Linked DNA regions of Homo sapiens: region 2 is linked to region 1. Evidence: fine-mapped expression QTL. A gene starts in region 1. The other region holds a variant in brackets. All regions are shown on one strand. Distances are from middle to middle.

Region 1 (5,521 bases):
TCACACTGAACACCCATCCTGGCCCTCCCCGTCCTGCTGGGTTTGCAGCCTGGGCCCCCAGCCCCACACAGCACCTGCCTGGCGAGTCCTCCTGCCTCTCTTCCCCCCCACAGAGCAGATTGAGACCTGCTGGCCTGGCTCATCAAGTCCCATGAAATGACCCATGCCAGGGGTCCGGTATCACCCTCCCCGTGGTCCCCAGCTTGTATCGTTCCCCAAATGTTTTCCTAAGTAGTTTCCTCCACTAGGACTCCCCCTACAGTGCTCATACAGACATCAGTCCCTTCCCCTCCCACCTTCTCCCAAGCCCAGCCTAAGTGCCTTCCGCAGAGGCTCCCTGGTCCTCTTCCCCTTCTCTGGGCCCTCTGTTAGCAAGCTTATCTCACGCCTCCATCTCACCTCCTAACTGTTGTTTGTTTGTTTGTATCCCTGACAAAAGGAAGTGTCACACCAGGCTGACTGGCCCTTGCCCAGTGGCCCAGGCCGGGACACAGCCTGTCCGTCACAGATCACACCTGGAGCGGCGTTCTCCATCACCCGACACTCTCGGAGCCAAGCCCCAGGCCTACGGGAGCCAGGGCAGCTGTGATCACCCCTACACACCCATTTAGCAGCTGAGCTCCTGAGGCGAGAGGAGAGGAAGGGCAAGGGGGCCACAGTGATGCTGTGACCAAGGTGGGTGCATATCTCGGGTCCCTGCAGCAAAGAAGGGGTCAGGTCTGGCCCTAAGAGCTCATTCCACACCTGGACATTGGCAGGAAAGAGCCCAACAGGACCCCTGCCTGGGCTCTGGGGAGCCAACTTGGCAGCCCATGGTTATTAATGCCCAGATATGCTCCTTCTCACACAGTCTCTGACCCCAAGGAGCCAACAGGCTGCCCGGGGCTATCCTCTGGGAGGGGCAGGGGGCTTGGCTCTGGGTCTGGGCCACTCACGAGTTCTGAGATACCTTATTTGCCTCACCCACGGCCATGTTCCCGACAGAGCACAGAGTGCACAGTAAGCGCTCAATAAATGCTTCTATAAATAACTTTCTTGGTCCACTGAAGGAGCAACAAAGGCTATTCCTACACAGCCCGTGGACCCCAGGCTACAACTGCTCCACATTGGTGGGGGTGGGAGGCCCCTGCCTTGACCCATCCCCTCCTCCCTACGCAGTAAAATGAACATCAGACCTCTCCCAGTGGGGCACAGGGAGACCCCAACTCTACCACGCAGGGGAGGTGGGTTGGGGACGGGGGAGGACAGGAATCATTGGTTTCCTACACACTCCCAGCCCCCGCGGGGACCAGGGTGGGAAGTCCTATCAGTGCCAGGCAGATGGAGCCCTGAGGTCTGGTGGCAACGGGCAGGGTGTTCAGCCCGCAGCCTGCGCTTCCCCGTCTGCCTGTCACCGGTTCCAGGACTCTCACCCACGTGGCCCACGTTCAGAGACCCTGCGGGGCCACCTTCTCCCAAAGCTGGCCTTGGTGATGAAGAGCACGGCTGTCCCTTGCTCAGTGGGGACCCCGGACCCAGCCCCAGGGACAGCTGCAGGAAAGCTGTCCTCAGGAGTTCCCTCAAGTGCCACCCCCTCCCTGAGCCTGGCCCCTGGCTTTCTATACCTGGATGTGCTAGGTGACCTTGGGCAAGCCACCTGCCCTCCCAGAGCCTCGGTTCTCCCATCTGTGTAGTAGGAGCACTGATCTCACAGCCTAAAGAGCAGACCCCAGCTTGCTGGGCCCAGTGACTGTACCACTCTGAGCCTCAGTTTCTCCAGCAACAAAATGCCTGGGAGCCCCGGGAGGTGTCGCTCCCCTTGGGCCCCAGTCCCCTCCCAGGCATCTCCTTGTGGGTCCGCCCCCACTCTAGAGACCCACCCACAGCCATGCTGACCTGGACTAGATCCCACCAAGATACCAAGACCCCCCCATTTCCCCATTTCACCACCATCCCTACCCACTGTCCAACAGCCACCCGTGCACGGATGCACACATCCACACTTACACTCACATACACTCCCACACTCACACTCACACTCATACTCACACACACTCACTCACACTCTCACACTCAAACGCTCAGTCACACTCTCACACTCACACTCACATTCTCACTCACTCTCACACACTCACACTCACACACTCTCACACTCTCACGCTCACACTCACACTCACACTCACTCTCACACACTCACACTCACACACTCACACTCTCACACACTCACGCTCACACACTCACACTCTCACACTCACACTATTCCCCTTCCCACCTGCTGTCCAGCCCTTGTTTGGGTACCTGCTGCCAGGTGGAGGGTCCCACGCAGGGCCAGGCGGCTGGACCACCTTTCAGGATCCACCCCCAGAGGCTTAACCTGCCAGCCCTGGTCCCCGCTGCCTGCCGAGTGAGCTGGAGAGCGTGGGAGGCTCCCAGCCCATCTCCTACGGCAGGGCAGGGCAGACAGCTAGTGCGGAGAGGGAGGGACCGGGTTTGTTTGGTGGGGAGACACCCCTCTCCTGCCCCAGCTGGGCTCCTCCCTCCTCCCTGAGCTTGACTGGGGATGACGGACGATATATGTGAGTCATGGATTTCTCAGAGGGAGACCAGGAGGGGGCAGGGCTGAGAGCGCTGAGGCAGTGATCCTGGGGGATGCCCATGACTCAGCGCCGGGCAAGGGGGCACCTCAGCCTCACCCCTCATCCAGGCAGACAGTGTTCAGGGACAGGAAGGGGCCGGGGATCACTCTGCTTCCTCAGCCTCCATCTGTCGCCTCCCAGGGCCAGTCTCCCCAAAGTTCCCACAGAGAGGCCGGGGTTGCCACGGCAACAGGGCCCTTGGATGCTGTCCGCCCACCCCCCAGGTCAGGGCGACAACTGCCCTTTCCTGAAGGAGAGTCCAGCCTCCTTGGCAGCCGACGGGAGCCAGTGCTGACCGGCAGAGCGGAAGGCAGTCGGGAGGGAGCGGGTGACAGGCAGCCGGGCAGGAGGCCAGCCAGGCCACGCACGACTGACCGGCTGACCTGCGTCCCCCCGGGGGGTGACCCGTCTCCCCTCTCAGTGCTCCTCAAGCACCCACAGTTTCAACATCCCAAGTCATTTTGGATTCTGAGACCCCAGGGGCTTCTGGAAACGGCCTCCTTTAATCCATCTGCTGAGCCAAAGGGGAAACCGAGGCCTGGGTGAAGAGCCATTCCCAGTGGCCCCAAAAGCTCAGACAGAGAAGTGTGGAAATGGACCATGCCCCATCCCCCTTCTGGTCATTCCTCTGTCAGCAGCACCTCCCGCTGCTGGGGTTCAGTGCCCTTCTCGAGTCAGGAGGCTTTGGATAACTCACACTCCCTGCAGAGGCTCCTGTCTGCCCTCCTCCTCCGAGCAATGAGGATAGATGATTCCTCAGTCAGATGTGCTGGGAGGCTTTTACAATGCCAGAAGGGTGAGTGGTGACAATAACAGTAATTACACTCGCTGACCACCGTCTGCATTCCAGCTCCAGAGCGCCCCTGGCAGTGGAGAGAAGTCAAACCTGCTACTCAGACCAGTGCCTGGTACTTGCCAAGCCCTCAATAAATACTCCCTGTGAATGTGGTGATGAAGAAGAGGGAGCTTAAGGCAGATACATGTAGCTCAGAGATGAGAATTAACCTGCCCAAGATCACACAGCAGGGAGGTGCCCGAGTTGGGATGGCGGGAGCACAGGCCGTCTGGCTCCATAGCGGGTCTCCTAACCACTCAGCAATCCAGCACCCCAGGCCTCAGCCTGGGGCCTGGACACGTGGATGCTTGGGGAACTTGAGATTCCTTCTCTCCGGTAGAGATCTGCCTTCTAAACAAGGGGGCCAGGAAAAGCTTCCCCATGCCACGTGGAGGAAGAATGAATGGAACGTCTCGGGCAGCCTAGGAGCCAGGGCTGCTGCAGGTGAACTGCACTCCTCACCTACCTGCTTGAAATCAAGCTGCAGAAAGGAAGGGCCACAAAGCCACCCCGTGGGGTGCAGGGAGGCCATAAGGTGAGAGCTTCCAGAAAACGGCACTGTGCTTCCCACATTCACAGTCCCCAGTCCAGGCTGTGGGCCAATACCTGGGGCAGGGAGGCACAGTGGGGACTGGGCCCATGTCATACCCTCTGCTCTCTCCCGGGGCTGCAGTGGGAACTCCCTTATTGCCAAAGCAGCAGAGGCCAGCCTACACTGGGGGCCCACTAACAAGGGAGGACAAGTGAGTTATCTAGGGGAGGATGGGTTGTCCCTGACATACCACCACCTCTGCCTCAGTTTCCCCAAGGTCAGTCCTTCAGGGCCTGATCAACTGGTAACCCGGGCAGCCTCAGCTGTTCCCCAGGGACCAGGCCCACAGGGCAGCTGTCCCCCCACCACCACCACCACACACACACCCCACAGAGCGTGCTGACCAGAAGGGCACAGATGGAGAGTTGAAGGCACCACTCTCTCTGCAGATGGCTGAAGAGAGTGCGGAGCCAGCTGCCACTCTGGCCACATAGGAGAGGCTTATGGGGCTGCCTGGCTGGGCGGAGTTGGCTGCCCAGCTCTGCCTGCCTCTCTCACCGTCGGACTTTGCAGAGACCTACTATGAGCTAGGGGCAGGCAGGTGAGGAAGCAGGCCCCCAGCTCTGAGTCTGGCTAGAGAGACAAGCCTGGTTCTCATAGTAGCGATACCTGGAGTTGGTATTCAGCATCCAGGGGTCTCTGGGAGTAAAGGGGGAGAAATTCAATGACTTGTTAAACACAACACTATCTGTTATGAGTGCTGATAACAGGACTAATAATCACCTGCTATGTCTGGAGGTTTTATGGTGTAAGATGCTCTGCTTGTACAGATCATTCTCATTTTATCCACACAACCCTGTGGGTTGGGTACCACTTGTATGTTAGAGATGGTCAGAGACATGAAGTAACTTAGCCAAGGTCGCACAGCTTGGACCTGGCTGGGCCTCCAGGTGTGTGGGCTGTAACCAAACACGGGACACCAGATATCCGGCCCCTGCTAGGCACTTCATCTTCTCCTTCTGTTCTCACAACAGTCTATCCCCACTTTACAGAAGGGGAACCGAGGTACAGGGAGGGCTACCCACGCCTTTCTATAACAGCCAGGATCTGAACTAAGCGTGTAGACCCCAGAGCCCCTGCTGGGACCTGAAGGAGAAGAAGGGGGCTTCGATAAACAGAGACCAGCAGGAAGGGCACCCCAGGCAGAGGGAACAGCATTGGCTGAGGTGGAGAGGTAGGGCATGGAGCCATGCTTGGAAGGAAGTGGGATCTAACTGGGCAGCAAGGGGCAGATTCTGGAAGATTTTGAAAGTGTAGAGTTTGGGCTTAAATCAAAGGTACTGGGGAGCCAGAGAAGATGTTTGGGTAGGGAGAGGCCTGATTAGCCCTCAAAATGTGGTCTTCAGACCTACAGATAGCCTGAGACCTGCTGAATCTGAATGTGTATTTTAATAAGATGCCCAGGGGATTCCAGAATTGGAGGTGTGAGAAGCCCTGGTCTAGACGCCAGGGACTTGTACCAGCAATGATGCGGAGGGA
Region 2 (5,000 bases), 21 kb after region 1:
TGCAATCAAAACAAAACCAAATCAAACCCACAAGTATCTAGGTACATAATGTATATAAATAGAATCTGAAACCAAATGTTGGACTGTAGTGGGGGTGCATAGGGCTGCTCCCCAGCTGTCACAGCTGGCCCCAAAGCACGCCATACTCGGAGGCATAGCTTTAGAAGAGCTGACAGGAGACGCAGTGGTGCCTCCCTGAGGTTACGCCAAGTCATGCCAGAACTAACACCCGAGCAGGCAGCTCTGGCTGCTGAAGAAAGAGAGGGCAGGTGGGCGCAGCTCCTAAGACAGAGAAGGTGTTTTTGTTTCCGGCACAGCCCGACACAGAATGGCTCAGGTCCACCTCTGCAGCTTGACACAGATTCTATTTGCCATGCAGACTGATCTCAGCAATTTGGGGCTGCTGTGGCCCCACAGGGAGGAAACCGAGCTGCATCGCACAGAAGGGTCAGCCACATCCCCCAGTTGCATGGGGATAAAGCCCTCTGCTTTTCCACTTGTCTCTGAATTCCTGTCCCAGGAATTAGGATTTCTTGTGCAGGCTGGAATGAGCAAAATACTTAGGGTGTAACATTTAAGGAGGTGCCCACCGTCAGTGCCAATGGCCCTGCACCTCACTTTAATCTTCATGTGATTCTATTAGGCAATCTCTATTATTATCCCATTTCGTTGTCCAAAAAAGGAAAAAAAAAAAAAAAAGAAAGGAAGAAAAAAAGAAAAAGAATAAGGCTCAGAGAGCTGATGTTACTTGCCCTGAAAAGTGACAGAGCCAAAATTCAAACCCAGACCCATCAGATTCCAGCACCTAATGGCTTAACCATTGGGCCATCCTTTCTCCTGAGTACATGGGCACCCAGGTGATCCTCAAGTGACCAGTGCGGCAGAAAATACGCTGAGGCTGAGTGTGCAGGCGGCAGCTGCAGTCCCAGCTCTGTCCAGGCTCACCGGGTGACCTTGGGCAAGTCTCTTTTTTTCTCTGTGCCTCAATTTCCTTGTTTATAGAAGCTGGTGGCTATGCTGGGCCAAGAGTCACAAACTACAGTGCCCACAGCGGCCAGGCTGCAAAGCTAATGAGAGCAGGAAGGGGGCAGGGTGGGAGACAATAGGGAGTGGGGGGACCTGGGGTGAACTGGAGAGTATGGGCCACGCTGGGGAGCACTGCCCAGCTCCAGTGAACTGTCACTTGAGGAAATATGAGCCCCATGTGGCCTGATCCTTCAGTTTTTTCAAGGAAGCCAGAAATTTGAAATTAATGTGAAAATCTTAATTGTTATAAGTTGGGGATGAATTCAAATGGATTTAAAGCCTGTCATAAGCCAAACAAAGCCTATCTAAGGCTAGATCTCACCCTCGGGGCCTCCAGCAAGCAACCTCTAGATTCCATGTCAGAAGCTGTAAGTGTTCCTCAATATCCACCTCCCCTTTCTATACCAATAGAACCCCATATTTTCGCTGGGTTCATGGCCCCCTACAATAAAGACATTATTACCTAACATTCCTTGGAACTGGGTGGCCACATGACCAAGTTCTGAACAATAGGATGCAGCCATCAGTAAAGTCTGCAAATCTTGCATCATGCTCTTAAAAAAAAAAAAAGAGGTGCACCCTTTTGGAGGAGCAAAAAGGGAAGGGGTATGAGTGCCCAAAGTCCAGGAGCCACCACAGCCACCGTGCAGCCTGGTCCCTCGCATGGGATGGAAGTAAACGGCTTCTTGTTTATATGGGTTCTTACTCTTGAGTTTGTTACAGCAGCCAAAGTCATAACCTACCTAGCACAGGCTCTTTCAGGGATCTTCCTCAGGGCTCATAATTTTAAAGCCAGAAGGCTCCCACAATCCTCAATTCCCACCCCCATTCCTGACCATATACCTATTTTACAGATGGGGAGACCAAGGTTCAGAAAGGTGGAGAGTCTGTAACTTAATGAGTGAACAGCCTCTCTAAATGCAGACACAGCATAAATAGGACCCTTCTTCTACCCCAAATAAAGCTGCCAGGAGCTCATGTCTGGGAAAAGGGACTACAAGGGTGGGGACGGTGCCACCCGCATCCTCTCAGGGGCCACCGTGTGCTAGGCAAAGCCTTTCTTCACTGCTAGGGGCCCCTACAAGTCCCAGGCTTGCACCCCAACCCCGTGTTTCTTTGTTGTCTGCCCCCAGCCCGCAAGCCCATGTCTCTCTGGGCTGAAGAGGCCTTCAGGACATCCTTTTTTTTTTTTGAGATGGAGTCTCGCTCTGTCACCCAGGCTGGAGCGCAATGGTGCCATCTCAGCTCACTGCAACCTCCGCTTCCCAAGTTCCAGTGATTCTCCTGCCTCAGCTTCCCGAGTAGCTGGGATTACAGGCATGCGCCACCACGCCTGGCTAATTTTTGTATTTTCAGTAGAGACAGGGTTTCACCATGTTGACCATGCTGGTCTCAAACTCCTGACCTGAAGTGATCCGCCCGCCTATTCCTCCCAAAGTGCTGGGATAACAGGCATGAGCCACCATGCCTGGCCAGCACTGGTAATTTTTTAAAGCTCCTTCTACCCCTATACACCCCCACCCCCACACCCGCCCGATGGCCCCAGGCGACTGCAGGGTTGGGGCATGTGAGTCTGGTGGTTTCGCCCTAAGGGTCCTGGGTATCTGGTGCTCGGCACTTTGCCAGTCTCAGCCACTGGCTCAGCCTTTCCCCTGGAGATATAGAGGCTATGGGGGCAGTGATCTGGAAGGCCAGCTGTGTAGAAGTCCCTGAGGGTCAAAGTCTAGGTCTGGCAGTGTTGGAGAATAAAACCCTTGGCTGGCCAAACACTGGGAGGCTGCACCTGCTGCTCTGCAAATATGCCTGCCCCTGCCTGAGCAGGAGGCCTCAGCCAGCCCTCAGCAGGAACCCAGCCAGGGCCACCCACCCCAGCCATGCTAAGCCTCTGCCAGAGTGAGAGAGGCCCGCGTGGGCCAGGGGTGGCAC[A/C]AGAGTCACTCTCAGGGTGGGCCAAAGGGTATCACAGAGACAGCCCGGCCCTGGAGCCATGCAGACCAGGAGCCGGGTGCCACCTCCAACACCAACTCACAGTGACTTTGGGCAAGTCCTTTTTTTGTCTTGAACCTCAGTGGGCCTAGTCTTGGCAACTGTGCAGTCGAGTGTCCAGCCCAGGGTCTAGACCAGAGCCAGTGGCAGCAAACAGCCCTGTTATCAAGAAGCAACATAACAAGAAGAAAGGAGAAAAAAGGTAAGCTGATTTTTCCTTTTCTGAGTGTTTGCAGAAGTCAACAGATAATGTCCAAGGTTAATAAATCAGGAAATGGCAGTAGAAGCATGTTATTTATGGCTCTGGAGGTAACTGCCACATGAGCTCGAACTATTAGAAGTGGTTGCCTCTGGGGAGGGGGCTTGCAGGAAATGGGCTTTTCACTATAAGTCCTTTTTACCAGTTCGTGTTTTTTAATGTCTATTTAGAAGTATTTATTAAAAAGTGACTCTGCCCCTCCACTCTTGATTTTCCAGGTCATCCCTGTTAACAGAAGTATTTTTGGCCTATAAGGCCATGTATAGGGTTAAGTGCTCAGACTGTGGAGTTGGGCTGCCAGAGTTCAAATCCTTGCTCTGTAACTTACCAGCTGTGCCGCCTTGGGCAAATTACTTAACCACTCTGTTCCTGTTTTCTCATATGTAGAATGGGAGTAATAATAATTCAATGCTCCTGGTTTACACAGTAAACATTCAGTAATTGTGAGACATGATTATTATATATCCCTGTAACTCATATATGCAATTGTTTTACAAAAATAGAATTAGTATGCTATACACAGTGTTTGCAACTCGCTTTTCTTTCTCTTGCCAAGTTATAATGGATATCATTTCTGCTTAGAATGTATAGTTCCATCTCATTCTTTTTCATTAGTACAAGAATTCCATTGCATAGAATGTAAAATTATTTAGCCATAACCCTCTATTGAAGGAAATTAAGGGGTCCTATTTTTTAGTGTAATACACTTTGCAGTAATTAACATATATATTTTGGCACATGTGTGGCTATTTCTAAAGGAAAGATACCTAAAAGAGGGATTACTAGGTTATAGAATTGTGCAATTAAAAATTGTACAGATACTTGAGCCGGGGAGGTCAAGGCTGCAGTGAGCATGATGGCACCACTGCATTTCAGCCTGGGTGACAGAGCAAGACCCTGTCAAAAAAAAAAAAAAAAAGGTATAGACACTGCTAAATTGCCCCCTTAAAAAGTAGTACCAATTTAGAGTCCCACCATATCCATTCCAATGTGGAGGTGATCTCTCTAGATGGGCAAAAAATTGTTTTAGTGTGCCTATTGTAATTCTGAGTGGAACCGAGCATCTTTTCATAACTTCATCATCCATTTTTCTTTCTTCTCCTGTGAAACAAATGTTTATATCCTTTATCCAACTTAAAAAAAAGTAATACTGTTTATTTAACTTCAAAAACATTTCAGCATTCTAAACATACAAAAAAAATAACAGAATGTTGCAAATCGTGTTTAAGGACAGAAGGTTCCTGAATTTTCATTGCAGTGACTCTTTGCTTTAGTGACAATGAAGAGTTCTACAGTTTAAAAACCACCACACTTAACTAAAAAACAAAACAAAAACTAAACACTTCTCATGCCAGCTGACCCCCCCATCTTTGCCTTTAGCTAAGAATGGCAGCAGAAAGCTGTCACCACATACAGAAACAAGACAACTTGAAGCTAAATGAATGCCCACTGCACAGTGAACCGGTCCAGCGTCACGGTGCATGCCCTCAGCTATGGCCCCTCCAAAAGGCACCTTCCCCACAGCCTCAATGCCAGACAAGAAGCATCAAGAGCTTGCCTCAGTTGTTTTATTCTTTTTACAAACTATGGACATATACAGTTGATAACTCAGGATTTCTAGCCAATAACCATATAGTTAACACCATCTTACAAATTATAAAAATGCCAGAAACATGGTTTCTTTGTTTGTTTTGTTTTGTTTTGTTTTGTTTTGAGACGGAGTCTCACTCTG

Evidence for each region. PIP is the estimated chance that this variant, and not a neighbour inherited with it, causes the effect.
Region 2: its variant is fine-mapped to the expression of ADGRG1 in whole blood (TOPMed, PIP above 0.99).

What each region holds. Positions count from the first base shown.
Region 1 is chr16:57,625,559-57,631,079 of GRCh38, reverse strand. It overlaps ADGRG1 (adhesion G protein-coupled receptor G1), which reads right to left and starts at 2,450. Exons shown (of 14, transcript NM_201525.4): 1 at 2,278-2,450. RefSeq lists a silencer at 2,339-2,408 and enhancers at 1,958-2,613, 2,614-3,269.
Region 2 is chr16:57,604,939-57,609,938 of GRCh38, reverse strand. LOC105371291 (a long non-coding RNA gene) reads left to right here and starts at 2,917. Exons shown (of 4, transcript XR_933627.4): 1 at 2,917-3,211. It also overlaps the pseudogene HMGB3P32. RefSeq lists an enhancer at 1-92. The variant A/C (reference allele first, on the strand shown) is at 2,953.